2 separate regions of the Homo sapiens genome follow, and region 2 is linked to region 1. Evidence: fine-mapped expression QTL. A gene starts in region 1. The other region holds a variant in brackets. All regions are shown on one strand. Distances are between the middles of the regions. Region 1 holds the start of FABP5 (fatty acid binding protein 5). Region 2 has its middle 23 kb from the start of LNMICC.

What was found. PIP is the estimated chance that this variant, and not a neighbour inherited with it, causes the effect.
Region 2: its variant is the best candidate, but not a certain one, in a credible set for the expression of FABP5 in whole blood (TOPMed, PIP 0.59).

What each region holds. Positions count from the first base shown.
Region 1 is chr8:81,271,462-81,286,596 of GRCh38, reverse strand. FABP5 (fatty acid binding protein 5) reads right to left here and starts at 6,061. Exons shown (of 4, transcript NM_001444.3): 1 at 5,923-6,061; 2 at 3,059-3,231; 3 at 2,623-2,724; 4 at 1,822-2,083. The coding sequence starts at 6,001. The coding sequence ends at 2,030. It overlaps LNMICC (lncRNA associated with lymph node metastasis in cervical cancer), which reads left to right and starts at 5,173. Exons shown (of 2, transcript NR_186603.1): 1 at 5,173-5,264; 2 at 6,221-11,198. RefSeq lists enhancers at 4,749-5,583, 5,584-6,418 and silencers at 6,013-6,302, 6,313-6,392.
Region 2 is chr8:81,296,054-81,312,106 of GRCh38, reverse strand. No RefSeq gene overlaps it. Among named protein-coding and RNA genes, the nearest start is that of LNMICC, 23 kb to the right of the region's middle. The variant G/C (reference allele first, on the strand shown) is at 9,501.

The sequences.
Region 1 (15,135 bases):
TGTGTTTTAAAATGATAGCTTTGGGAGAATAAAGTTGCAAAATGGCAGAGAAGGGGAGAGATGATGGTGATGACTGAATGAGGGTGGTATCTGTGAAAGAAGTGACAAGCAATTGAATTCTAGGTATATTCTGATGGTAAAACAAATAATTTGCTAATTGATTAGATATAAGATGGTAAAGAAATAATCAAAGATTAGACATTTAGCCTGAACACTGGAAACATGACATTCCCATGAATTGAGAGGGAGAATACTGCAAGAGGAATCGGTTTGAAAGTTTAAAACATAAGAATTTCAATTTTGGAAACATCCCATGCTGTCCAAATTAACAGTCACTAACTACATGTGGGTACTTAAATTTACATTTTAGTTAATAAAAACTAAATTAAAAATTCAGTTCCTCAGTTGCACTCACCACATTTCAAATGCTCAATACTCACTTACGGCTAGTGGCTACCTTAGTGGCCAGTGCAGATATTAAAGAGCATTTCCATGTCACATAAAGTTATATTGGGAAGTGCTGGTGGGACATTAAGCCTTTACTATATTATGGGTCCCGTGCTAACTTTCATTTTTGTGTCGTATTTTTTATTGGACAGTGTTGATTTAGACTTCCTTTCTATGTGAATTTCAATCATGCTTATTTCAGTCTCTATGCTAGGGTTCTTCATTCATCCACATTTTCCACTTCTCATAATCATGTTTGGTTCAGAGAGAATGTCAATAAATATACATAATTATGAGAAGCGGAAAATGTGGATGAAAGAACCCCAGCATAGAGACTGAAATAAGCATGACTGAAATGAAAGTACATGCAATTTTTACATTTTCCCTAGAAACATTAAAAAAGTAAATGGGTAAAATTAACTTTACAAATATATATTTACTTTAATATGCAATCAATACCAAAAAAATCATTAATAAGGCATTTTACTTTTTGTACTAAGCCTTTGAAATCCCCTATGTACGTCTCAATTCAGACTAGTCACACTTCAAAGGTTCAATAGCCATGTGTGACTCATAGCTATGTATTGGACAGGACAGGACTAGAGTATCAGCGAGTTGAAAACCTCCACTGACTGCTAGCTGTGGCTAATTCTTAAAAGAATAGGCTTACCAGTTAACATTTCTGCACGTGGAGGGTGGTTTCAGAAGTCTCACTTAGTATACGTAGGGACTTTAGACAAGATCTGCACAAGCTGCAAAGAGACAGCATTGCAGAATGACTGAACACATTGAGTAGACTTGATGAGATATAGGTTGTCGGTCCAGCTCTACTACCTCCTGTCCTTGAACTAGTTACTTGCAGAATGGTTGTAGTTGTACCAGCCCTTTAACGTCTGCCCTAAAGATCATTTATGCGAAGCTTTAGCTCAGGGCCAACAGCCTGCTTCTCCAAATGTGAACTGTGGATATTTGTGTTGGGGACCGAGAAACAGAGATTCACTAGAATTCTGGTTATTCCATACATAGTATTACTTATATTTGTATATAAATACACACAAAAAGTATTTTAGTCAATGCTGGTTAATTAAACCTTTGCTCTAATTTGAATAATAAAGTTTATGTTGTAGTCACCTTTTATTGAGAATGGTCTCTGCCAGAAATTCAAGATTCCTGAATTCATACAAAGTTCAAATAGTATAGGGCAAGCTTAAATAATTGGTACAGTATTTCCTGTAAGAGTAGCTATCTATATAAATTGCTAGAGTGTCATCTCAATATAGTACCCTCAAGACTGCCCCAACCTTTACTCAATTAATAATTATTAAAACTCATCACTAATTTCCTGTAAGGTTTAAAGAATGCATACAAGATATATTAGCACAAACACATTTATTTATTAACCAAAGGGATGATCCTAATTAATCCAACACACTTTGAAATAGCTGCATGTAAAATGTTTATGATAAAGATAATTGAACACAGTAATGAAAAAAAAAAGAAAGAAACAGTATGGAGATTTGCTCATTGAACTGAGCTTGGTCATTCTCTTAATTAACTCCTGTCCAAAGTGATGATGGAATTTTTATTCTACTTTTTCATAGATCCGAGTACAGGTGACATTGTTCATGACACACTCCTAGAAGAAGGAAAGATATTAAAAGAGTTAGGTTAGCCTTAGATTCCAGAGCAGTGGTGGTATTAAAACATTAGAATCAAAGTCCCACGAAATCACGTAATCTACTTCATAGATGGAGAAAATTTCTTTCAGAATTCACGGGTTTGAGAGAAGCCAGAAGCTGTTGTTTTGCTTATAATATGCATGTTTTACAGAAAACTAATGTGTTGAATATATCTTTATTCTTTTGGTTATGGCAAATATTCCTTATTTTAAAGATATAGAAAAATGTGTGCAGTTTGGTGGCTTGCCAAGATTTCACTGTGACGTGGCAGCAAAGCAAGAACTCCCCCCAACTCCAGCCAAATCCTCTCCTATGTCATGTCACTTCTCTATCTCCACTAGGACTTTCTTAATAATTAGTGTTCTAGTATTTAACTTGTTATTTTGCTTTTTTTTCTTCCAAACTGAGTTCTGTTAATGATCAATGATATAGAACAGTTATGTGAACTATGAATGCACACAAGAAGCTGACTGAGACACAGCAGTTTGACACTTACCACCACTAATTTCCCATCTTTCAATTTTCTTGTTATTGTGCTTTCCTTCCCATCCCACTCCTGATGCTGAACCAATGCACCATCTGTAAAGTTGCAGACAGTCTGCAAAAACAAAGTAAACGTTTTAATCTTCCAAGTACATTACAAGAGTTTCCATGACTCATAACCTCCTTAATCAACATTTGTTTCACCTTCTCCTTTCTGAGTCTACTTCATTAACCCATATTGATTTTATTCACAATAGTTTGTGGTTTTCAACCTAGTAGCTAATAAAAGATGCCAATTCTATGATGAAGTTGATACTTTTGCTAATTTGACAAAATTCAATTCATAAAATAACTTTTTCATTAAGTTCTTGCCTATAAACAGTAAAATGTTATTGATACAGCCTATCATTCTAGAAGCTTCTGTGATTTCATAACATGTCACGACTGACCTGAGTTTTTCTGCCATCAGCTGTGGTTTCTTCAAACTTCTCTCCCAGGGTACAAGAAAACTGTGTTGTTTTCAAAGTGCTCTCAGTTTTTATGGTGAGGTTTTTACCATCACAAGTGATGATACAATCTGGCTTGGCCATTGCGCCCATTTTTCGCAAAGCTATTCCCACTCCTGTAGAATGTTAAGTCATGTTAAATAACAGGAAGACCAAAGTTATCATTTACATGATAAAAGCAATAATTCCATTGTAATCACTTTGTGCGGCATATTTTCACTTATTTGCTTATTGATAACTATTGTAAACATATATCCCACGGTATGAGCCAGCACTTTACATATATGAAATTCAGGTAAGCCTTACAACAGCCCTGTAAAAGGCAGATGTTACTGTCTCCATTTTACTGATGAGAAAGCGAGGCACGGAAGTAACTTGCCCAAGATCATTCAACTAGAAAGTGATGGAGCTGGGAACCAAGAGCACTGGCACCCTGGCTCCAAATCTGAGCTCTGGCCACCATGCTATGCTGGCTTTCAGAAAGTTAGGGAAGAAATGTGGACTTCCAAATTTTATTTACTCAAAGCAGTTGATAGAAGGTGGAGATAAAGCATTCAAAATTGCAAATTCAGGAGTTTGCTCAATCTTTTTCTTTTTACTAGATTCTGCCAACCATTACATTCTATGACTCCAGCACAGTCTGGCATATAAATGTTCTCGATAAATATTTGATTAATAGACTACACAAAATAGAAATTGATCCTGAGATATTCAAATAGCACAATCTTTTAAAACTCAGCAGCACAATCATGATGCTAACAAATGGGAAAAAAAATCCTACCTTTCAATATAAAAACTATTTCATAGGTATATAAATCAATAGAAATATATAACATATTAAATTATATTTTAATTTATGATCTATCAATTTCCCCTCAACGTTAACATGTAATTTATGATCTATCTCTTTCCCCTTAGAGTTAGTTAACATGTATAAGGAATCTTAGATCCAGGCCAAATCACTGTTTCATAAATGAGGAGACTACAACCTACGCAGCATGATTGTCTTGATGAAGAACACCCAGCCAGGCTTTAAAGTTCCCCTTGGAGCCTTCTCTTTTGCCAGCTCAGGGCTGGTGCCTTATGCTGTTAATTGAGTCATTATGTACTCTCACTTTGGACAAATAAATGGGCTCTGCTCTTTTCACATTGTGACTGCTCCCTAATGAACTGAGTCTTGACAACCTTCAAGACTCCAGAATCCTGGAAACAAGCCCTCCAAACCTACACACAATTTGCTTTCTACAGGCAGAGAAAAGTGTTCTTTGGGCCTTAAACTTGTACACACACACACACACACACACACACACACACTGTTATTTATTGGACAGGTGCAGTAAATCGCTTTTTCCAGAGTCATCTTGATGTAGGTTTACAAGGAAAAAGAAAAATACTGCCTTCTTTACTGATAGTATCAAAAATACACTCATGATTCACCATAAACCAGCCTTAACACCACATGGTCTTGGATAAAGGGTACTGAAGGAGTGATTCCGAAGTGCCACGGCGACCAGGTATCAATAGAGGGTCACGGTAGTTATTTCACCAGCGAGCAACCGGGTTAACATTTGTGGATACCGGCTTCTGAAGCACCCTCATAAATCCCAGCCATCCCTTAGGGCTGGAAGCTCCCTTCCAGAGAGGATCCATGCTATGCTAACTCCATCTCACTTCCTAGTGGCCTGTGACAAAGGTCCATTTTTGTTTGCAATTTATCCAGTGTCTCAATCAGCATGCAATCTGTCACTGGCATAGAAAAGGACAGTAATTTATAATGAAGCACTGTTTTGAGTGAGAAATGAATCTTACTACTGAGATTCATTCTCCCTCGGAACGCTTCAAGAAGTCATCTGCCTTCTGCAGGGCCACACCCATCTTGCATGCAGTTAGCCGCAGGAGGGCCAGGCAGTTTCTGTTACGGTTTTCCAGCAAAGCCCACTGCCTCCTTCCTCCTCACCCTCAAGTGGCAGAGGCCAGGATGGCAACACACGGCCACCCCCAGGCCTCATTGCGCTCCTCCCACAGGCCACCCGCCCACTGCGGCGCCCCGGCCCGGCAGTGCCAGCAGCAGGTCGGCACCGCCAGCGCCACGCTTCTCGGGGGCCCTGGTGTTCCATGGGGTACCAATCCAAAGGGTTCGGCTCAACTGGTAAGGGCGAGCAGAGGACCTGGGGGAGACGGGGCTGACAGAGGAATGCAAGCTGAAGCTGTAGCGCCACTCAGACCCCTCCACAGGATTTCTGCGGGAAACTGCGCGCCAGCACCGCGTCCCCATGAAGAAAACGGAGGGTGACCTGCGCGCCACAGGGAACAAAAGATGCGACAGGGAGGGAAAGGGGAGTGGGTGCTGCCACGATGGGGTAAATGGGAGAGACAGAATGGTGGCAGGAAGGGGAAGGATGAGTAAAGGGGGAAAAAAGGGAAATACAGGGTCGCCTGGAGGGGGTCGAAAGAAGTGCAGCGTGAGGTGACGGGTGCGCGCGCTAAAGGACAGGAAGCAATGCGGAAGGGCTGCCGTTTGGGCGAAGGGAAAGAAGCAGAGGTAGGTGGACCACGGGGTGGACCACCTCCGGAATCTTGCGGCCCGCGGGCGGGCAAGAGGCGCGCACGCTCCCTGCTCCTCGCCGCCTGCCCGCGTGGTGCTGCGCGCGCTGCACCCAACGGCCGCGTGGTGGGGAAGATGGGAGGGGATGGGGGTAGGCCGCCGAGCATCTCCTGCCCCAGAATCTGGCACGCTGACGGGGACCTAGGGACAGACGACCGCACAACACGCCACGTTGCAGGCGCTGCCAGGCCGGGTGCCTCACCTAGCTCCTTCATGTATTCATCAAAGCCTTTGCTGTCCACCAGGCGCCATCTTCCTTCCAGCTGCTGAACTGTGGCCATGGTGGGTGCGGGCGGGCTGGCGTGCAGAGAGGGGTCTGCGTCGGCGTGGCAGCGTGCTGTGAGGCACCCGGCGCCGGCGGCTGCTTTATAACGGCGGCCCGCGCTGGGCGGCGCTATGCGGCCAATGGGAGGCGGGCCTCGCCCGGTCCCCGCCCCGCCCGCCGGGCGCCCCCTGGGCCTTCTCGGGGTCGGGAGGTGCTAACCAGCTCCTCTTGCCAGGGTACGCGACGGCCTCTCGGGCGCCTCCTGCAAGCAGGGACTCGCCCGGCGCGCCCCACGCCTCATGGACGCCGGCGCCTGCACGTTTCGGCGCCTCTGCAGGCCCAGGAAGCCAGAGGGGTCACCTGGAGGCCTGGCCCCGCCTCTCCTGCACCCCTCCGTTTGACAACATATCCACCGCCGTTTTTCCTTTCAAAATACCCGGACCAATCGATTAGCCCTCGCCGGACTCGGACTGCAGGAAGTGATTGATCGGCTGTTTGGTTTATTGATTCATTAACTACGGTGCCTCCCTGACCTTCTGCTCCTCGCCAGCGCACAAGCTCACAATCCACACCCTCCTAAGAGAACCTGCTCTCGCCATCCGCAGGTCTCCCTGGCCCAATAGTGGGGATATACCTGAGTTGAGCTAGAGGATTTTATCCCTGTTGGGATGGGGGACGTCTCGGGAAGTGTGGTTTCTAAACTAAAAGACTGCAGGAAGTGTCAACTTTAGTGACTGTCATTGCCATTCAAGAATGTTTGATTAGTTTATATTCCCTTCGTAGTGCACCCTTCACCGTTTCTTCTCAGACACCAGCGGGTTTCTTCTCAGACACCAGCGGGTTCCCTCTTTCTCTTGAACTATAATAATACCCTACACATGTGCGTAGAACATGATACGTTTCAAAGTGTACTCTTCACAATTTATTACTTGGTGCTCCCGGGTGCCTGTTGGAAGTCAGATGGACTGAGGTGAGGAAGTTGCCACACAGGCTGGCCGTTTCGATAGCGGTAATGTGCATTTATTGAGTAGCTACTAAGTGCTAGATGTGCTTCCTGGGCACTTTATAGACATTGGTCTCCACTATATTTTTGCTAGGGGTGTTATCCCAATTTTTCAAAAGAGAAAATAGGGCAAAGATAGTTCTCACAGTGGTAGAACCAGAATCCCCATCCAGGTCCGTCTCACTGAAGACCTTATGAAATCAGACCACACCTGACTGCCTTGGGCTCAGGGTAGCTGTGATGGAGCTCTGAGTAGACCACAGTCACCGAGACACTACTAGTTCTTGTATCATCCTTGACAAAATTGAAATCTGAGGTTGGTTTGCTATCTCCCAACATGCTGCAGGACATGTACTCCCCTGAACTGCATCCCTTTCATTTCAAGTCCCTGCCCTCAGTTTAGGGTCACACCAGTCTTCCTTGTGGTACCATTTAACACTCAATTGTTTTCCCAATAAGGGTCTGCATGTCCCACACCCGAGGCCCTACTGCTCAGAAAATATTCGTGTTCTGAGGGAAGCTGAGTGCATCATTTACTCAGTGATGAGAAGCCCTGGCTACCAGGCACTTCAGGCAGCTCCTTAGGGCTGCCTGTGTGTTTGAACTTGAGCTCTTCATGTGCTATTTCAACATGTCTTATCCATTTCTGTATAGACTATATGTAGTAATAATAGGACGCAGCACTCTGATACTAATTTTTAAATGATCATAATCTAACATGTTACAGAAATATCAAAAAGATAATGGCACTGGAGTACTAGATACTTAGGTACTTAAGAAATAGCCTTTAATCCCAAGGCCTTACTTAAAACTTAAGTTTAAACACAATCTCTGATGTGATGAGTGGAAATAATTCTTTTGTGTTAAAACATACAGACAAAACAAAGCTATATGGCCAGAATAATAACCGTTATTGTATCTTGTGGAACAAAAAAGGGCATGGTGATTGCTCTGTTCCTCAGGGAAACACATTGAATGTCTTGTTTTCAGACACCACATCTGATGCATATACAGATGTATGATTGGAGTAGATTATTTCTAATGCCCCTTAAGCTCTACTACTCAGATTCTTTCCTTCTCCAGAGTAATGGTAATGGATTTTAAGCTGTGAAAAAGCAGTTAAGTACTGCCTTCACCCGCTAAGTAAAGGCCTATTCTAGGCTACTTACCTTGCACCCATTATGAGGTGTAAAACCAAAAATGTTGTGAAATCAAATTTCACTGAAGTCTCATATAACTTTATGGAGATGGTTGAGTATTTCTTCTTGGAAAGAAGGAGGAGAATCATCACTTGATTGTGATTAATTACAACATAGGAAACAAGAAACAATAGTTTTATCCTAACCTGTCCTTACGAACATTAGTAACTGTGCTGTTCATTATTTTTAGTAACAGCACATAGGTAATACAGGTGTTATATCATGTTTTCCTTCACACTGGAAGATAATAACACATTATTCTTATGGATGAAAATGACTGAAGAATCAAGAATTACTAGCAACTCTTCTTCCAGTAGCTTAGAAAACTGCCTTTTTCAAGACAGATGCAATTTTACTTAATATCTCTGAAGCTTAGTTTTATCATCTATGAATTTAAGGAGATGAGAATTAATACTAAATGATTTTTTAGGTCCCCTTCAGTTTATGAAGTACTCCTGCAGTAGAAGTTCATGGCCTTGAAAAAGCGTACTCAAAATTACTCTATTTCCACCTAGTGGTGAAACCGTAATATTTCTCTGAGGCTTTACTTGATAAACGTGAGTAGTTTTTCAGCTTCTCATTCTGTAATCACACACAGCTTTGGAGCATATTGTGTCATTTTTATTTAAAGACAACTTCCCAGTTAAAGTTTATGTACATAGATGTGCCTTCCACAAAGTTGATTATTGTATATTAGTTCTTCCTAAGGACAGTTAAGTGTTGGTGGCTTAGCAACAGGCAGTTGGTAGAGAAATGGAGAGTACTACATTAAATTATTGCAGAGAATATTCAAAGTAATCCATTTTCAGGGAACTGAGTCTTCTCTAAGTACATGGCCAGATGATCAAAAAAGGAAAAAAATTAATCACTAAGGTTGGAGAATATGTTTATTTAAACCTAGTGTCTCCCTTAAATTTTATAACTAGATTTTTGACCCTCACTCATCTGGCTTTCCTTGCTATAGACATGCTTTGCATACCCAGCTTCTAGCCACATCTTCCCTAAGAAAATTTCACCTGGAATCAGTTCCAAAAGAAAATCTTAAGAGATAGAGTATGGATCTGCATGTTGTCAGCTACCTAAAGCAGCAAAAATTCCTAGATGAGAATAAAATCAGGGAACCTTGCAGTTTAAGGCACACCTTAAATATTAAATTTTTAATCCTTCAATGCATCCAGCCAAAACAAGAAATTGCAAATAGCTACCATCCATCAATGCAAGGTTTTTTTGGTTTGTTTTTCATAATAAGATTGGTTTTAATTAAAGCACTTATAAAGATGGAGTTATATTTTGAACTTTGTCCTTTTACTTAAAGCAGTTAGAGTCTTACACATCATAACTGCCACGGCTAACCATTAAAATTTTCCAGCTCCTTAAATGATCCATCATAAACTTGTGCTTGCTGAGTTAACTGGACTAGAGGATAGCTGGAGGGAAAATGAGGCATTGCAAAAGTTACAGTAATAAAAAGTGAATGGCTTCAAAATAAGGCAGAGGACATAATGGCTCATTTTATAATAAAAGCTTTCAGTATAAAATTCATACATTTCCCTTACTTATATAGATCTTCCTACTTTCCAGACATGTGTATTATTGTATATTACATTTGTCAATAGCTCATGGCAACAGATACACATAGTTTGGGATAACCCTTTTATACCTCATATGAGCAGTGTTCAAAGGTTTAAAAGCACAACTCCAAAGGGCACAGCTTGAAATGGAGCGGGAGGATGCTAGCAAAGCCACCCCAATAAACACAAAATCTTAGTAAAAGCACTATGTTTACCAGGCAATGCAACTTCAAAACAAATTCCTTAGCAACCCCAACCTCTTCAAGCCCGCTTCTAATCACATTATTACTCCTAAGCCTCCTTATATACAAAATCTTAGGCTGGCCAAGCCCAAACACACAGACACATTAATAATGAGCATCTCTGTCCTTAAAAAATTTCAAACATAAAAAACCTCCAAATGATATGTTCCCACTGGAAGAGGCCAAATTCTTTTCTTGTAGATTACCCTTTTCTATTTTTCATTCCTACCTCCCATGCAGTATTCCTAGATTCTCACACCATTTGATCATTTCTCTATTTTGATATTTATCTATAAGAATTAATGATTTTTTTCAAGTCAAATCTACAAAACCGTGGATTTGCTTGCCTCTAAGCTATTTATCTCAGTGAGTCAGGCCCACTGCTTCCATTTTTCTGGATTAGCTTTGAAGAAGAATCATCAGCACTTAATAACCTACCTAAATCCGACTGAAGATGCTTTCTTGATCCTATCTCTGGTCCTCCTACTTTGGCAGTGGGAAGAGCTACCCTATAACTCCTCAGAGTCATGCACAGAGCTGTAAAACCAGCATGCAGCTGATTTTGTGCACTTCTCTGAAGGACCCAAGCAGCAGGATGGGTACCTTTTGTTCACCCACCCATAGACACCACAGGACACTTTTTGTTCACCTGCTCACTTCTGCATTGACCAAACTTAAAGATACAGATTCAACAGTATGTAGGGGAAGTTTCCAGTAAAGTATATTCTGTTTTCTACATTGGTTAAATATTGTAATTTCATGCGGGAACTGGGAGGCTAAGTAGTTGTTACCATTAAGAAGAGCAACTGTGATCTTACTTCCAGCCTATTTTGGAAGGTGGGATAAAAAATATTTGTGCCACAAATCTCAAATCTTGTCTCCTATCTTACAACCTTGAAATACATAGTTAATTCTGCAGGGTCTCAGACATCCTACTGAGTTGCCAAATATTGAACACCAAGCTGGGCTTGTCAACACTCAGGGCTACAAAGAGGAGATCTCAAAACTACCATGGCCTCAGGATTCTGAATGTGGGTCTGAAATCCCTACTTCTTACTTTGGATTAAAAGCTCACCTGAGCTACACACATCTGTTGTCCTAGAATGGATATTTTTATTTAGATATCAACCAATTCAACTTCACTCCTTTATTGAGTCAGTCAAGAAATCAATAAAATTGACTTCAAAAATTGAAATCACTTCTTAATTCTCCTCTGGTTTTCTTCCTACCCTGCCCTTTCTTCTTCACACTCAATATAGTTTTACCCATCTGAATGAGGAATAAGTCTGACTTGTCTTTGAAACATTTGCTTTATTTCATAACTGCCACACGCTGGGCCTAAAGTGTATGTACCTGGATCTGAAGACAACAAAATACCTAGAGGATCTGCTCTGTGGGTGGGACACGGCAGCTAGAGCTGTGGAGGTCAGGCTTGAATTCCAGGGGATGGTACTGTCATGATTCTGATGGGTTCTTCTGATCTGGATTTGGATCCTGGCAAGAGAATGGTAGACAGAGTTTAGCCATCAGGAAGAAGGAACAAGACCTAAGCTGATGGTCAAATCCTAAAATAACACAAAAATAATCATGTGCCCTGCATCCTTACCTCCTTCTCCCTGCCCAGCACATCAGATAGCATTAATTCTAGTTTCACCATCAGAGCAGAGATGGAGCTCCTAATGGCCTTTCTGCCCTGGTAGGTTATCTGAACACACGATTTTTTTCAGAGTGCAAGATAGGATGACCATATCCTGGTTTGACTGGGGCAAGTCAGAGCTATGCTTGTTGTCCTGGTATGATTTTGAGCAATGCCCTCCTTCCTTCCAACTATTTCAAATAGGATGAAGAGTTGTTATATTTAATTCTCACCTATCAGGTAGCTCCAAAGTCTAAATTTCAAGGAAGGCATTAACATGGTACTACAGCATCATCTATTGTAAGACCTGAAGGTGCCTTGCAGGAGGGAAAAAATGTGGTAGCGCCATGTTCAGTATTACCCTACTCAGGTATCATACAAATATGTCATGCAGGGACAGCTTTGCTTGCTCACAAAAGAATGGCCAGCAGAGATGTCCATACCAGACACATTCCTTTGTCTCAAATCACCCCATATTTTTAGAACACCTAGTAATTATGTGGATAGAATCTAGTTCTTATCTTCAAGAAGTCTGGTATCTAAGTCTATACAAGCTAAAAACTACATCCATTGTGGGTTTTTTAAATTTCACAAACATTTATTAAAAATTGATTCTGTTTTAGTTCATCACATATTGAAAATTTTAAAAAATTGAAGGTCTTTGAAATATCAGGTAAACAGAAGCCCTCAGGTTCCCCATAATTCATTATGCCTTTTTTCTTAAGAAACCACATTATTTTATTTAAGAAATAAATGAAAGGTTTTTAGATCATCACTGGTTAATTTAAAGTCTACATTTGTTGTTTTCCATTTACACAATCATGTTTTTATTTTATTCTTTTAATTTTTTTATTGACAAATAATAATTGTATATATTTATGGGGTAAAATGTGATGTTATGATGTAGGTATAAAAATAAAATACTTAGGAGTAAATTTAACCAAGGAGATAAAAAATCTATATGCTGAAAACTGTAAAACATTGATAAAAGAAATTTAAAATGGCACAAATAAATGGAAAGATATCCTGTATTCTTGCACTGGAGGAACTAATATTGTGAAAATGTCCATACCACCCAAAGTGATCTGTAGATTCAATGCAATTCCTACCAAAATTCCAAGGTCATTCTTCACAGAAATGGAGAAAACAATTCTAAAATTCATATAGAACCACAAAGGACCCCAATTAGCCAAGAAAAACAAATAGCAAAGGCTGGAGGCATCACACTACCTGATTTCAAAAATGTACTACAAAGCTATAGTAATTGAAAAAGCATGGTGCTGGCACAAAAAGAAACGCATCAACCAATGGGATAGAATAGCCCAGGGAAAACCACATCTGCAGTCAACTTAATTTTTTTTTTTTTTTTTTTACAAAGGTGCCAAGAACACACAATGAGGAAAGAACAGTCTCTTTAATAAATGGTATTGAGAAAACTGGAGATCAACATGTAGAAGAATGAAATTAGGCCCTTATCTCTTACCATATACAAAAATCATCTAAAAATGGATTAAATACTTAAATGTAAAACATGAAACTACTAGGAGAAAACATAAAACTACTAGGAGAAAACATAGAGGGAAAACTCCATGGCATTGGTCAAGGCCATTGTTTTATCTTTATAATATTAAGCGAGTCTTTAACAGAAACCAGGTGAGTGTACCAAATAAATATATCTTGTTTAAAATTAATGTGCCAAATGTCAAAAAGTTAACTGAGGTAAACTTTGCTCAGCTAGAAAGATCTTGTCTGAGAAATACTGGGTTAGAAATCATGAAGCAACTCATGTCACTACTCAGCTCTGCCTGTGCTTTAGAGTTAGTTCATCGCTATAAACCGGGTAGTAAACGGACACCAGGCTATGCCTGAGGTGGTGATGCATACTGAGATATACAACTTGCATAATAAAAATTTCCAGAATACAAGTCAAAACTGGAATTGTCACCACCCGGCTAGTTCAGTAAGGGTCAGAAAATCCTGCTGAGTTCCTTTTCTGAGAATTGAGAGAAGAGTCTCAGAAGCAAAGCTGAATGATTTCTTGCCACACATACTCTGATGCCCTTGTCTTTCAGTAGAAACTGTACGTGGTTCCTGGGGAGAAGACTATGGTTCTATATGACAAGTTTTATTTGTTGCATGTTGTAAAATATTATCACTTCTGCAGCTATGTTATCAGGACATCATATAAGTGTCAAGACAGAATAGGACCAGCTTCTATAAACAGGAAAGAATGCCATTTACTGGTGTCCCTTTGAATGTATTTAGCATATGAAAGTTACTCTATGTTATGTACTATATGGGAAAAAAAGCTTTTTTCTCAAATTAAATACCTTTCCATTTTATTGCATTTTTGCATTTTGTTGACATAATCATCTCTGAGATATAGTCACAGAAACAAAAGTTTGACCCCAATATGAAACAGAAAATCAAAACTGCCTAATATTCCATTTGAAAGCATGTGGTGATACAAATCATAACTAGAAACAAAATAAAAATCACATAAGAGTTCAACAAAACATTTATTTGTCATTTTCCAATCAACGTGAATAGTGATGGTAAATCCTGCACACACAAAAAAGTATTGGGTTTCCTTTTGCTTCGTGCTTTACTAAGCAGGTGTCAGCTGCTTCTGGTTTTCCAAGGCAAGGCTCTAGTTCTTTCACACCCAAAGCCTTAGGGCCTCAGTACTCTGAGGGAACCTAACTAGTCCAAGTCACTAATCCACATGAACAAGTAGAACTTGATCTTTGCTGCCCACACCCAAGACATACAGTTTTTAATTGCGTATTTGGCAGTAATTCTTGGTCAGACGTGATCTCAGAACAATGAGTTGTCACTTGAGCAGACATATTGGTAAATTCTTCAAAGTTGTATAGTTTCATTTCTGAAAATAGATTAGTGGCTTGGATTTAGGACTAAAGGAGAATCAAAATCCTAGAGTTTAAAGGAATTTTAGATGTCTTCTAATTCAGCTAAAACTCAATCAAGATTCCTTTGACAAAAGATTTTCTGAGTAAGCAAAAATAGAATTGCAAATTATAGGTTTATCAAGAACACCAAATATATTCCATAATCATTTAAGTATTCTTTAAAATACTTTATGGGAAGAAAAATGAAAATGAAAAAATAAGGGGATTAACCTAAAAATTAAATTATTTCTTTCAATTCGTATTTGGCCTATGAAAATAATAGTTATTAATTCATAGTTCAAACAATACTAGAGTATGGATTATAAATAGACATGAGAAATGTAACACTGCAAGTAATTGTGCCATTGCTTGGCCTCCCCCCTTGTTCCTCAAGAAAACCATATGTCATAATAATATGTCATATACTTACACAAACATGCATAATTTGCTCACTATTTAAACTGTAGCAGAGCCTTTTTGGTCTCTTAGAAAATCTTAAAAAGTATATATCTTTTTTTAAAGTATTTTTTAAAAAACTATTATCTTTGTGTCCTCAATTCCCCTTTGTCTTCACTTGAATTGAAAACAAT
Region 2 (16,053 bases), 25 kb before region 1:
CTTTTTTATCCAGCATATTTAGGTGATTGAAGGTGAAAACCTGGAAAGCTTTCAGGAAATCTAGCCAACCAAATTACCAGCAACTAAGTTCAAAACCATGGTTTTGGATTGCTTATATTACCAGGGACAAAATGGCAGGTTGGTGGCAGGGATTCAGAACTTGGAGCTAAACAGCAAGTGAGTGGCGTGGGTACTGGACTTCAGCTGAAGCAGCAGGAGCTGACCTGCTTCTGTATTCGCTATACACTGCATATACTTCTCCAATCCACTGACACCTCCTGTTAATCTAGTTTACATCACAAAGTTGTATCCACATGTGTCATGATGTTCTTCCACTTACCCTAGGGCTTTCTGAAATAAGATTATAAGGTTCCAAGTTAAGCGTGGACTGAGCCTACAACTTCTATCATACATATCACATATGATATATCTATATTATATATAGATATATATCCCAATGATATATTATGATACATATTTTGATTTTATAAATAAATATGTGTGTGTATGTGCGTGTATATATTCCAAGGGTATATTTTCCAGACCCTGAACTGATTAACAGAGAGAAGTTCTGGAGGTCTTATTTCCCCACAACAGTAAAAAAAAAATGACAGTCTCTTGGGGTACTGCCATAATCTCAGGTTTCAGATTTTCAATAAACAACAAGTATTGGTTTGCAGGGCTGGAAAGTATTCAACAGCAAGCCTCTAATTATCAGAATCTACCTATCTCTTTCCTGAAAAAATTCTGGCCTTAAACCAGGGTCATACTTTCCTAAGAGCCAAGTGGGTGACCACATATTAATTGTGTCATATGAATAAAACCAATGATGAAGAAGCTGCAGAAATCTAATGGATATAGTTTGCTTCTATCTGCCAGCTGAAAATAAGTCCAAAAAGGTAGATGGCATGCATTATAAAGAGATGCTTAGATCAGCAATGGGAGAAAAAACGTTTTTCCAGGATGAGGGAAAAATGTGATAGGAAAGTACTTTATGAGTATAGTGTTTCTTGCTATTTTGTTCACTTCTAGTTGCTGTTCAGAAATTGTCCTTCAGGGATTTATAAGTTTTTGAGAGCACCTGGAATAGATCAGCTGATAAAGTGGAAAGCCACCATTTGGAACATAATTGGCAATTGGTAAATGAGAAGTATTTTAGATGGTTGTGTAACTGTTAAGTCTCCTTTTCATTGCAGTAATAAAAATATGTTATAGTTAACTTTAAAAAAGAGGTAATTCATAATAAAGACATAGGTTTTTGCATAGTCTTGCTTTGGCTATGCAGGCTCTTTTTGATTCCATATGGATTTTAGGATTTTATTTTTCTGGTTCTGTGAAGAATGGTGGTGGTATTTTGATGGGAATTGCATTGAATTTGTAGATTGCTTTTGGCAATATGGTCATTTTCACAATATTGGTTCCACCCATCCATGACCATGGGGTGTGTTTTCATTTGTTTGTGTCATCTATGCTTTCAGCAGTGTTTGTAGTTTTCCTTGTAGAGGTCTTTCACCTACTTGGTTAGGTATATTCCTAAGTATTTTATTTTATCATTTTGCAACTATTGTGAAGGGGGTTGAGTTCTTATTTGATTTGCAGCTTGGTCACTGTTGGTGTATAGCAGAGGTACTGATTTGTGTACATTGATTTTGTATCCTGAAACTTTGCTGAATTCATTTACCTGTTTTAGGAGCTTTTTGAATGAAGCTTTAGGGTTTTCTAAGTTTACGATCATATCATCAGCAAACAGTGAAAGTTTGACTTCCTCTTTACCAATTTGAATGCCCTTCATTGCTTTTTCTTGTCTGATTGCTCTGGCTAGGACTTCCAGTACTATGTTGAATAGAGTGGTGAAAGTGGGCATCCTTGTCTTGTTCCAGTTCTCAGGAGAAATGCTTTCAACTTTTCCTCATTCAGTATAATGTTGACTGTAAGTTTGTCATAGTTGGCTTTTTATTACATTGAGGTATGTCCCTTCTATGCCGATTTTGCTGAGGGTTTTAATTATAAAGGGATGCTGGATTTTGTTGAATGTTTTTCTGCATCTATGGAGATGATCATGTGATTTTTGCTTTTAATTCTGTTTATTTAAGGCATCACATTTATTGCCTTGCGTATGTTAAACCATCCCTGCATCCCTGGTATGAAACTCACTTGATCACGGTGAATTATCTTTTTGATATGCTATTGGATTCAGTTCACTAGTATTTTGTTGAGGATTTTTGCCTCTATGTTCACTAGGGATATTGGTCTGTAGTTTTCTTTTTTTGTTATATCCTTTCCTGGTTTTGCTATTGGAGTGATACTGGCTTCATAGAATGATTTAGGGGAGGATTCCCACTTTTTCTATCTTTTGGAGTAGTTTCATTCAGTAAGATTGGTACCAATTCTTCTTTGAATGTCTAATAGAATTCAGCTGTGAATCCATCTGGTCCTGGGCTTTTGTTGTTGTTGTTGTTGGCAATTTTTTAAATTACTGTTTCAATCTTGCTACTTGTTATTGGTCTGTTCAGAGTTTCTGTTTCTTCCTAGTTTAATCTAGGAGGGTTGTATAATTCCAAGAATTTATTCATCTCCTCTAGGTTTTCTGGTTTATGTGTGTAAAGGTGTTCATAGTAGCCTTGAATAATATTTTGTATTTCTGTAGTATTGGTGGTAATATCTCTCGTTTCATTTCTAACTGAGCTTATTTGGATCTTCTCTCTTCATTTCTTGGTTAGTTTCACTAACAGTCTATCAATTTTATTTATCTTTTCAAAAAATCAGCTTTTTGTTTCATTTATCTTTTGTATTTTTTTATTTCGATTTCATTTAGTTCTGCTATGATGTTAGTTATTTCTTTTCTTCTGCTGGCTTTGGGTTTAGTTTGTTCTTATTTCTCCAGTTCCATGAGATGTGATCTTATGTTGTCTTTTTGTGCTATTTCAGACTTTTTGATGTAGGCATTTATTGTTATGAACTTTCCTCTTCACACCATTTTTGCTGTATCACAGAGGTTTTGATAGGTTGTGTCACTGTTATCGTTCAAAAATTTTTTAATTTCCATCTTGATTTCATTGTTGACCTGCTCCTGATCATTCAGGAGCAAGTTATTTAATTTCCACATATTTCATGATTTTGAGGTTGCCTTTTGGGGTTGATTTCCAATTTTATTCTACTGTGATCTGAGAGAGTACTTGATATAATTTTTATTTTCTTAAATTTACTGGGACTTCTTTTGTAGCCTATCATATGGTCTATATTGGACAATGTTCCATGTGCTGATGAATAGAATGTGCATTCTGCATTTGTTGGGTAGAATGTTCTGTAAATATCTGTTAAGTCCATTTGTTGTAGGGTATAGTTTAAGTGCATTGTTTCTTTGTTGACTTCCTGTCTTGATGACCAGTCTAGTGCTGTCAGTGGAGTACTAAACACCCCCACTATTATTGTGTTGCTTTCTATCTCATTTCTTAGATCTAGTAGTAATTGTTTTATAAATTTGGGAGCTCCAGTGTTAGGTGCATATATATTTAGAACTGTGATATTTTCCTGTTGGACTAGTCCTTTTATCATTATATAATGTCCCTTTTTGTCTTTTTTAACTGCTGTTGCTTTAAAGTTTGTTTTGTCTGATATAAGAATAGCTACTCCTGCTCACTTTTGGTGTTCATTTGCATGGAGTATTTTTTTCCACCCCTTTACTTTATGTGAGTCCTTATGTGTTAGGTGAGTCTCCTGAAGACAGCAGAAACTAGGTGGGTGAATTCTTAACCATTCTGCCATTCCATATCTTTTAAGTGGAGCATTAGGCCATTTACACTCGATGGGAGTAATGAGATGTAAGGTACTATTCTATTCATCGTGCTATTTGTTGCCTGAATACCTTGGGTTTTTTTCATTGTGCTATTGTTATATAGTTCATGTGAGATTTATGCTTTAAGGAGGTTCTATTTTGGTGCATTCTGAGGATTTGTTTCAAGAGTTAGAGCTTTCTTAAGCAGTTCTTGTAGTGCTGGCTTGGTAGTGGCGAACTCTCTCAGCATTCATTTATCTGGAACAGACTGTATTTGTCCTTCAGTCATGAAGCTTAGTTTCGCTGAATACAAAATTCTTGTCTGATAATTGTTTTGTTTAAGGAGGCTAGAACTAGGACCCCAATCCCTTCTAGCTTGTAGTGTTTCTGCTGAGAAATCTGCTGTTAATCTGATAGGTTTTCCTTTATAGGTTATCTGATGCTTTTGCCTCACAGAACTTAAGATTGTTTTCTTCATCTTGACTTTAGATAACTTGATGACTATGTGCCTAGGCAATGATCTTTTTTGCAATGAATTTCCCCAGTGTTCTTTAAGCTCTTATATTTGTCTAGATCTCTGGCAAGGCCGGGGAAGTTTTCCTCCATTATTCCCTCAGATATGTTTTCCAAACTTTTAGATTTCCCTTCTTCAGGAACACCAGTTATTCTTAGGTTTGGATGTTTAACATAGTCTCAAATTTCTTGGATGCTTCGTTTTTTTTTTAATAATCTTTTTTCTTTGTCTTTCATGGATTATGTTAATTCAAAAGCCTTGTCTTTGAGCTCTGAAGTTCTTTCTTGTTCGATTCTATTGCTGAGACTTTCCAGTGCATTTTGCATTTCTCTGAGTGAGTCATGATTACCTAATGTGATTGTTTTTCATTTATGCTATTTCACAGAAGAATTTTCCTTTCATATCTTGTATTATGCTTTTTTATTTATTTAAGTTGGACTTCACCTTTCTGTGGTGCCTTCTTGATTAGCTTAATCTTTTGGGGGTGTTAAAGAATGTTGTTTTGTCATATTTCCAGGATTTTTTTTCTGGTTCCTTCTCTTTTGGATAGACTATGTCGAAGGGAAGATCTGGGATTCAAGGGCTGCTGTTCAGATTCTTTCGTCCCATGGAATGCTCCCTTGATAGGATGTTTTCCCCCTTCTCCTGGGAATGGGGCCTCCTGGGAGCCAAACTGTAGTGATTGCTTTTGCCTTTCTGTGTCTAGCCACCCAGTGGAGCTACCAGGCTCTGGGCTGGTACCGGGGAGTGTCTGCAAAGAGTCCTGAGATGTGATTCATCTTAAAGTCTTTCAGCCGCGTATAACAGCACCTGTTCTGGTGGAGGTAGCAGGGGAGTGAAGTGGACTCTGTGAGGGTCCTTGGTTGTGTTTTTTAGTGTGCTGGTTTTGGGTTGGTTGGCCTCCAGCCAGGAGGTGGTGCTTTCAAGAGCGCATCAGCTGTGGTCCTATAGGGAGAATGCAAACTTGCCCTAGGGACACCTGGTTAAGTACTCAGGTTTCTCAGGTGGTGGGCAGGCCATAGAGCCCTCAAGAAATTGAGACCTTTGTCTTTGGCTACCAGAGAGGGTAAAGAAAGACCACCAGGTGGGGACAGGGATAGGCGTGTCTGAAATCAGCCTCTCTCTGGGCGGGTCTTGCTGCAGCTGCTGTGGGGGATGGGAGTGCGGTTCCCAGGCCAATGGAGTTATAGTCCCGGAGGGATTATGGCTGCCTTTGCTGAGTCATACAGGTCACTAGGGAAGTGGGAGAAAGTCGGCAGCCACAGGCCTCACCGCATTCCCACGCAGCCCATAGTCCTAAAGGCCGGTCTCACTCCCACTGTGGCCCTGCAACAGCACCAGGTCTATTTCCAAGCAGCCAGTGACCAGGGCTGAGAACTTGCCCCAGACCACGAGCCTCCCTGTTGAGAAAGCAAGCAGACTCACAGTTTTTCAGCAGCATCTCAGGGAGCCTGCAGTAGTGATCCAGTACCTTCAAAGGGTCTGTGGATTCTCTCAGCTTTCCTGGTATGTTCCTGCAGTAGTTCTTGGAGCAAAAGTTCACAATGTGAGTCTCCACACGCTGCTCTGTCCATCTGAGCAACAGCTGCAAGCTAGTCCTGCCTCCTGTCTGCCATCTTAATCTGTCCATCCTTAATTTTTTTCACAGCATTAAAATTTTCTTTGAACCTAGGAATGACATAAAAGTACCTAGGAAAGGTACTTCATGAATCAAACCCAGAAATATGAGAAGAATTTAATTTGGTGATAAAGGAAGAGGATGGCATTCTAGTAGAAAAGAAGAGCAAGCACAAATTATGTAAGGAAATAAAAGCATGAAACATTTAGAGAATAGCAATTTCTTTACTTTTATTACTTTATTTTAACTAATGAAGGAGAAGGATAATCAGAAATCAGTTGAAGGAGCAGGTGGCAATCAGATCTTGACAGGCCTTGGACCAAAAAATTTCTATGAAAATCTGGGTTCCCATCACCACATTCATTATACCATCTTTTAGGACAGAAAGTGCAAGTAACTTTTCTGGAATATTAGCTAGTATTTATGACACATGTATCTCCTCCACCTAATTGATGGAGTTAGGGATTGGGTTGGTTCAAAGTCACTAGCTTCCAAATTAACCTGAACTGGAAGGTGATCAATGGCCTTTGTAGTCACTTGGTATAAAACTCTGCCTAGTAAGAGTTCTTTGAATGGAATGGTGACAAAGTAGTCAAAATGAATCATCTCTCTTGGGATGTATAAATAGAAAGTACTCACAGGGAAACAAATCACTGAAGCCGTAGCCAGATGCAAAATAGTATAAAAATATTATTACAATTCTCCATAAGATTTATGGAATACCCAATTATTGAAGTTCCAGGACGTAACGCAAATTTGCAACAAATCTATGAAACAGTAGCCCAGGTTACCTTGTTATATCTTGATTTTTCTGATAAACTTCCATTACCAGTGGTAATCTGGATGTACCACTTCCATGCAGCATTAGAAACAAACACACTCAACCTCTTATGAGATACTGAAGGGTCAGTATTTTATCTTGAATGTACTAGCTACGCCTACCACCAGGTAACAACCATACTATCAAACCCAGGGACTATGACCATTGTATTTTTAATCGAGGCATATTTGGTGCTTAGTAAATAGCCTGGGACTCTGTGACACTGAACAATTTCATATTAAGTAAAAGAAAACAAATGAGTTAGAGGAAATCAACCGAAAAAACTGTTTTATAACACACTTGAAGGTAATATTTTTAAATGATTCATCTGTTGACAGGACATTGATAATTGTGACATTCTGTGGGTAAACTTGGCAGGGATTGGGTCTTTGATGTTGCAACCATGAATCTTCCCATTGGCCAAAAAGTAGTCATAGAGGCAAAAGGAATACTGTTAAGATACTGCCAATAAGTACGATAAAAGTCAAATAGAAGGGTTGCATATTGCAAGATATGCAGTAGTTGATTTATCAAGCAAGTATCTTATGTCATTAGGGCAATCAAGGTTTCTCAACCTGTTTTTCACAAGATGTTACTTGTATTTTACAACAGAAGTTTCTGATCAACTATACTCAGAACATGCTACTTTAAACACGGTTGGTTAAGTTTCTTAATTTCAGGATTTTTCAGTCTTTGATATGCTAAGCAGTATTATGAATGTCTAAGAAAAGGTGTTAAGCATACAACCTTATCTCCCTAATTTAACCTTGCCTTTTTTTGGTGTAACATCTCAAACACCATTCAGAATCACCAGTTTATATAATTTCCATTCACTGTAGTTATGACCAAAGAGTTAGTTTTTAATTCAGTGTTTCAAAATTTTAAAAGAAAATTTAGCCTTTGTTTGTCAATCATGCCTCAATAAAACTAGGAAAAAATACAATTAAAATGTTTTTAATTATCTTTAAAAAACAAAAGGGAGAGAAAATTTCGCCAAAGGAATTATTCAGTATTATAATTAGGTAAGATTCTTACGCACAAGACATTCTCTGCACCTGGATTTATCAAGGAAAGTTCAGTCAACATGAAGAAAAGAGGCTTATTTGGATCTTACAAGATCTGCATGATCCTATCCTTCCTTTGGGGAACTGGATGAGCACCAGAGGACAGGGACTCCCCAGGCCTTTTGACAGCTGCTCCTCCCAACGAATAAAGGGTATACACGAACAAAATTAATTATTTTATGATATAGCTACTTTAAAAATACAATATTTGCACTGCTTTTACATCTGAGTAAGCTTATTTCCTTTACATCTTGGTGAGAACAATAATAATATTCTTTTTTACTTAGAATACCAATGGATCGAGTATATCTTTTCATTAAATATGGTCATCCCCTTTTTTAAAAAAAAAACTTCAATAAAAAATATGTATGGATCTGACTGACTTTCAATACAAAGAAAAGCAAAAAGGAAGTTATCCCATCATTCTGAATTAAAACGCAATCTGCAAAATCTGTTAAAAATTGTTTCTTATTATTGTGCCAGTAACTAATAGCCTAATTTTTTTAACATTAACTCTCCACCGAGGAGGCTTACTGAGCTAAGCTTTTTCTCATAATATTAAGCATAGTCGAAGGAGTATTATGGTTTATATTTTCCTTAAAATTCTAGAGTAGATACATGAATCTATTCCAGAGTAGAGGCATGAATCTATCCCAATAGTAACATGTACAGAGAGGATGCAAGATGCTTAGAAGTAGGGAGATGTGTGTCCAAGATCTAGTTTTGCCTGGAGCAAAACACTCCAGGTATTATTTCCTTCACATAAAATGAAAAGATTAGACTTCATTTTAAGGATTCTTCTAGCTCTAGCTCTAAAAATCCATGATTTGAAAATGTTTTTTAATGTGTCAGCCGTTTCAGCTGAAATACAAATAAGTAGCACAAGACTGGGTTGTGATGTCTCACGTTTCCCCATTACAAAGTAATAAATGATTCCTAAGGGATTTTTCAACGCACTCTTGTGCAGCCCATCACTAAAAGGAAAGCTGCCCGTTAATCTCATAGAGTGAGGCTAAAGACACTTTTGGGGCAGAGTGGGGAAGATGATCTCACAGGAACAAAATCTGCAGAAGTCAAAGCTACACATATTTACCAAAAAGATGTTCATTTTGTTTTTCCTTTATTTTATTTTACTTTATTTATTTTTTTTTTGAGACGGAGTCTCGCTCTGTCGCCCAGGCTGGAGTGCAGTGGCGCAATCTCGGCTCACTGCAAGCTCCGCCTCCCGGGTTCACGCCATTCTCCTGCCTCAGCCTCTCCGAGTAGCTGGGACTACAGGCACCCGCCGCCACGCCCCGGCTAATTTTTTGTATTTTTAGTAGGGACGGGATTTCACCGTGGTCTCGATCTGCTGACCTCGTGATCACCCGCCTTGGCCTCCCAAAGTGCTGGGATTGCAAGCGTGAGCCACCGCGCCCAGCCGTTTTTCCTTGATTTTATGACTTTTTCTACACTCTCTATTCTGAGTTGGAATCGCATGTCAATGTGAGCTAATAACATGAGCCCAAGCAATACAAGATTTGGATGTGGAAAGTCAAGATATTCAGGGGCACAACTTAAAAGAAAGCTTATTTTTACACCTTTCAGGCATTTGTGTGAATACTTATGACACCTAGTGGTGAAAAACTGGGAAATGGGATAATCAAGGAAGAGGAAGTGGCAATGGCCTGAAGGAGAAAAGATTGTAGATAAGGAACTGCTTTTTAGCA[G/C]AAAACTTATCCATAGAGGTGTCTAGTTCTGTGATCCCTTATTTAAGAGGAAACAATTAGAAGAAAACACAATATACAAGGGTTAAAACGATCCTTAAAAAGCCAAAGACTCTAGAGAATCTGGAAATATGCCATCTACAGCAGCCATCCCCAACCTTTCCATGGATGGAGAGGTGGGTTGAGGAGGGGGATTGGTTTTGGGAGGACACTGTTCCACCTCAGATCATCAGGCATTAGGGCATTAGATTCTCAGAAGGAGCATGCAACCTACATCCTTTGCATGCACAGTTCACAATAAGGCTCCTGTTCCTATGAGACTCTAATGCAGCCAATGATCTGATGTGAGATGGCACTCAGGCAGTAATGCTCAGTTGCCTGCTGCTCACTTCCTGCTATGCGGCCAGGTTCCTAACAGGCCACTGCCGGGTACTGGTCCACTGCCTAGGGGTTGGGGAATCCTGATCTTCAAGGAAAGAAAAAGAACTTCCTCCATGTATATTCTTCCCATCCAGAAGTAAGGAAAACAATCGTTCAAGAACTTCTGTAATCTGCTACAGCTCAATCCAAGTCTGCATGGATCCACACTGGTCCTCAAGACAGCTGAGCCAAGAGGACCCATTGTAGCAATATCTTTTTATTTCCCATATACTAACATAATCTTAAAAAACATCTTTGTAAAGACTGAGAATGCTTTCTGCAGTGATATTAGAACGACTAGGAAGACACTGAAACTGTTTTTGGCGTGTTGGGATTCATTTTAAAGGTAAATGCCTAATTTTTCATAATCAGACAAATCTGCAGAATTTCCAAAGAGAAGAGATGTAGAACTTTTTAAATAAAAATAGTAAATTACATCATCTCTTAGAAAACAGTGAGAATCAGAAAGCTACTAAAATGAAGAGAGAAGATACATATAGATCAAATGGAGTTGAAAATAAACACATTGTGTGTGTGTGTGTGTGTGTGTAAAAATAATGGAGAGGAGTGGTAATGAGACCATGTGAATGGGAAGAGTCCTGTTAATAATATTCTTGGAACTGATTACAAGTGCTCATTCCTTTAGTTTCCTGAACTGTTTGGCATTTCTCAATGAGGTTCATTCTAGAAATATTTTCATTGCAGGTCTACCAGCTCTACCATGTACTTCCCTCCAGTACTAAATATTCCATTATTGCTTAGACCATTCGTATCTGAAGTATGCTCCAGAACTTCTGCAGCTGTTATCAGCATTCCTCCTATACGCTGTAGAGATGGTGGTAGATGGAACTATGTAAGTCACCTCTCTTTGAAATGTAAAACAAAGATAAAATTCAAAGGCCCCCCACCCGCCATCTGAATGAACTCCCTCCTTGTCCAGGGCACCTGAAAGACTGGTTCTGGCCATGATGGGAAAAGGGGGGTTGGAAATGCCTTATTATGCGCTCCTTTCTTTTGAAATTCAGAAAAAGCGGACCAGCATTTGACATCAACACAGATCTTAAGTCTGTTAAGAAACATTTACAATCTATTTTCTCTGAAGCCTGCTATCTGGAGGCTTATCTGCATGATAAAACTTTGGATTCCACAACCTCTTATCCTAACTGGAACATTCCTTTCTATTGATAATGACTCTTTCAACCAATTGCCAGTCAGAAAAATTTGAAATCTACCTATGACCCTGGAAGCCCTCTACCCTGCTTTCTGGATTGCCCTGCCTTTCTGGACTGAACCAATGTATATCTTAAATGTACTTGGTTGATGTCTCATATCTCCCTAAAATGTATAAAACCAAGCTACACCCTGACCACCTGGGGTACATGTTCTCAGGGTCTCCTGAGGGCTGTGTCACAGGCCCTGGTCACTCATATTTGGCTCAGAATAAATCTCTTCAAGTATTTTACAGAGTTTGAGTCTTTTCATCAACAGAAAGCAAGGCCCTGAACATTCCGGCATATATGCCTTGCCCAAGATGGATGCTCCCATTAATATGTTAACCTAGGTATTAGTTTCTACAATTAAATTTATTTGCAATTACTCAAAAATTATTTATTAATTTGGATTGCCTATACTACTGCTCCCCCCCTTCTTTTTTTTTTTTTTTTTGAGAGGAAGTCTCTCGCTCTGTCACCAAGGCTGGAGTGCAGTGATCTCAGATCACTGCAACTTCCATCTCCCGGGTTCAAGCAATTCTCCGGCTTCAGCCTCCCGAGTAGCTGGGATTACAGGTACCCACCACCACGCCTGGCTAATTTTTTGTATTTTTAGTAGAGACGGGGTTTCACCATGTTTGTTAGGCTAGTCTCGAACTCCTGACCTCGTGATCCGCCTGCCTCGGCCTCCCAAAGTGCTGGGATTACAGGCGTGAGCCACCGTGCCCAGCCTCCCCTTCCTTATTATAAATAAATAGTCAAATGCTGGGAGACTCTGGAATCCATTCCAAACACTGAGAATTGTCTGAGAATTGAACTGGCTCAGTGGATGCATAATACGTTTCCTATAACTGGGGCTGAAAGAGCTTAAATTAGAGTTAGCTGTTATGCAAATAGAAAAAGAAGAAGAGGAAAAGAAATCAAGTTCTCAGAATCCAAATGCCTAGAGAAAAAGCTTTTAGGAATCAAGAAAGGCAAAAATATGTTTTATGCATTAAAGCTTCTCTTGAGATCTTTCATACAGCCAGCGGTGTTCTGGAAGTCAAGAGAATGGGAACTAACAGAGGCTCTATCATAAACCATTTGTGTATTGTTGAGCAAGTCACATAAATTTTCTAGGTCTTCCTTTCTTCATCGTGTAAAATGAAAACACAGCCATAAAAAAGAACAAAATCATGTCCAACATGGATGCAGCTGGAGGCCATTATCCAAAGCCAATTAACACAGAGACAGAAAACTAAACACAGGATGTTCTCACTTATAAGTGGGAGCTAAACATTGGGTACACAGGAAACAAAGATGAGAACAACAAACACTGGGGATTCCAAAATAAGGGAGGGAAGAGGGGGCAAGGTTGAAAAATTACCTATCTGGTACTATGTTCACCACTTGGGCGATGGGATCATTAGAAGCCCAAACATCAGCACCAGGCAATATATCTATGTAATAAATCTGTACCCTTTGAATCTAAAATAATTATTTTAAAAAGCAAAGTATCATACAACTATAAAGGTAAAATAATAAAGTAAAACTGAAATTTCCGATAACTATGAAAGAATTAAATAATGTTTTTTCATTAAAAATAAAACGAAGATAGTTTATTAGATGATATCTGAGGTCCCCTTGAGCTTCAGAATTTGATTTTTTAATAGTTTATTGTATCTACTTTTTCTTGTTTTACTTTCTATACTAATTATGCTCCTCAAGTTCTGAGTTCAATACCTTTTCAGATTTGAACAAGAGAATAACAAAATAAAGATGATACCTGTTTTCTCACTGCTATGGGAACACAGAAAGTAGAAAAATATACCAGAGAATTAGCCTGGGAAAGAAAGTTAGAGAAAAAAAGTCGTGTACTTCATTTAGGCAGTGACTTATAACATTAGTTTCATGTGATATGTACAATAATTATTTTATTGAATGTTTAAACATTATTGGTTTGAAAGTTAAGACTAATAATTTTCTGTTTCAAAGGCTGAAGAGAGTAGGCGTAACGAGTCAAGAATTCACAAAGTTAAAAATTGTTTTAAAACAATTCTACATATTTCAGGAAAGAGTCAAATACCTGAAATGAGATTGAACCCTCTGTAAGGTTCCTTTCAGCCCTGAAAATCTAAATACTATATTTAAATCTCCTGGACTTTTGTACAAAATGACTCTTCCAAGTCCCTCCACTCTGGGCTTGGGGTTTATTTGATTCCATGACTCCTGTTTTGACAATCATGAGAACAAGGAAGATAGTGGATGAATAAAGATGGGAAAGGTGAAGAGATTTAGAACCAAAGATGAGTTTCACTGTTTTTACCATTCTTAAATTTACCTGGTGAGGATCATGAAGTATAGGGAGGCTAGGAAGAGAAAGAAACAAGAAACAGGAGTGTAAGCAAACTAGTATTACCAGGCACATGCAGGAAAAAAAAAATCAATGTTTTATTTTTTTGTTTGCTTTTAAAAGAAATGCTGGGTTTTGCATTCTAGCCCCTCATTCATTCAAGACTCCCTTATTTGGTATTCAAGTGCAATCTGCAAGTGGGTGGTGTGAGTTTGTATATTTGCAGAAGCACTTTTCGGGAAGTGCTAAAGTAAATCCTGTGGTTGAGAAGTTTGTTGTACAGTACTTAAGGAGCACAGATTGTTTTGGTTTCCGTGTTATTTATTTAACTTATAAATTAAACTGTGAGAGCATACATACCACGCACACAATTCAGAGAACAGACAATGTAAGAATGTAAAAAAAAAAAATAAAAAAAAATGCCCTGGGGCAGAATCTGATAGTGTTCTTTTCCCAATTAATACATCACCTATCAAACTACGTTGAAAATCCATATGCTTATCTAACGTTTCAAAGTGATTTCTTCCTTCAGTAATAAAAATGTTTTTAAAGAGAGTGAAAACATTAATTCTACATGGGGGAAACATAGGATATATAGCAATTAAATAACCATGATCTAAATTATTTACTACATTAGCCTGCCTTTGTTGAAACTTATTTCAGGGCCTAGTTTGATATACTTGACTAGCAGAAAATTACGGAGTTTTAAAAAATCTGAGGCCGGGTGCGGTGGCTCACACCTTAATCCCAGCACTTTGGGAGGCGGATTACAAGGTCAGGAGTTCAAGACCAGCCTGACCAACATGGTGAAACCCCGTCTCTACCAAAAATACAAAAATTAGCTGGGTGTGAAGGTGTGTGCTTGTAATCCCAGCTACTTGGGAGACTGAGGCAGGAGAATCACTTGAACCCGGGAGGCAGAGGTTGCAGTGAGCTGAGATCATGCCACTGCACTCCAGCCTGGGCAACAGAGTGAGACTCCATCTCAAAAAAAAAAACAAAAAAAAACTGAATTACATGCATCACATGTGTTCTATACTGTAATGTATAAATTCTGTTCAAAATCATTCTTGTGTTTGTTTAGATAACATCTGTTTCCATGTCAGTCTAATGCATTGTAAACTTACTGAGGGCAGGGAGCATGTCTAACCTAATGAGAGTTGCCTCAAATAAATATCAGTCCAGAACAATACTTTTATGCATACCAAACCCATCCCTGCATCTCCCCCACCATCTTCTCAGCCAGTAAGAAACTAAACTGCCTCTGCCTGACTCTGTGCTGGACTACTTGCTCTTGTCAACCTCCTATAACCACCAAACCAGTCATGCATCATGACCCTGAACAAACTGGGCCCTGTGTTGTCTCTGTAATGAATCTCCCCTTCTGGAGATATTATTAGCAAAACAATATTCCAGGAACTTGCCTTATATCGGTTCCACTTTCTCTGAGGCTGCTTTTCCAGCAAGAAGTATTACTGATGGATAGGCCCTTCTGCTTATCACAGAGCCAGCCCTTTTAAAACACATTCTTATCTTTGAGGATTTTGGCAGCAGGTACTCCACTGTTGAGCACTTACTTTTAGAAAATGCACTGACTCCCAGATGAAATTAGGTAGATGAATTCCCACCCCTATAGTGAGTGACATATTTTTTTTTACTTCTTTCTTTTTTTTTTTTTTTTGAGATGAAGCCTCGCTCTGCAGCCCAGGCTGGAGTGCAGTGGTGTGATCTCGGCTCACCGCAACCTCTACCTCCTGGGTTCAAGAGATTCTCCTTCCTCAGCCTCCAGAGTAGCTGGGATTACAGGCATGCACCACAGCACCTGGCTAATTTTTTGTATTTTTAGTAGAGGTGGAGTTTCACCATGTTGGCCAACCTGGTCTTGAACTCTGACCTCAGGTAATCTGCCCACCTCAGCCTCCCACAGTGCTAGGATTACAGGCGTAAGTCACCGCGCCTGGCTGTGAGTGATATTTTTATCAGTAAATGGTTATTAGTTTCCTACAGGAAGAGACTAAAGGATTAGGTATAAACATGTATTCATATCTACTCAAATAATTCCTGTATAAGTACTCATGAGGGGCAGAATAATTTCAGACATCAGATAGCATCCATTGAACTCTTGCGGCTGCCTTATCATCAAGTAACCTACATCTCTCCTCAATGCTGTTAGCAGCACTTAGCAGCTCAATTCTTGATCTCCATTTGTACTTAGACTTTAGAGTCTCTTTAAATTGAATAAAACAACATAGCCTGAACTTTGGTTATCTATAAGAGCAAAAGACTGAAAACAATCCACAAGACTATTAATTAAGCCTTTCCCAAGTATATTTGCAATTTTCTAAAACAAAACAGCACCATATGTCTGATAAGGACCTACCTTAGAGGAGTTGTTAAATTAATAAAGCAAGGTACAGAGATGCATATATAATTATGCCTGGATTTACAGAGAATATTGCTAGAAAGATAAATAAGAAAAAGGTTACCATGATTGCCTCTAAAAAGGAGACGAGTGGCTGGGGACAGGGGTAGTAGGAAGGCTGACAATTTTACTACTGTATTTTTGTATTTTGTAATGTGACACTGAAGTTAT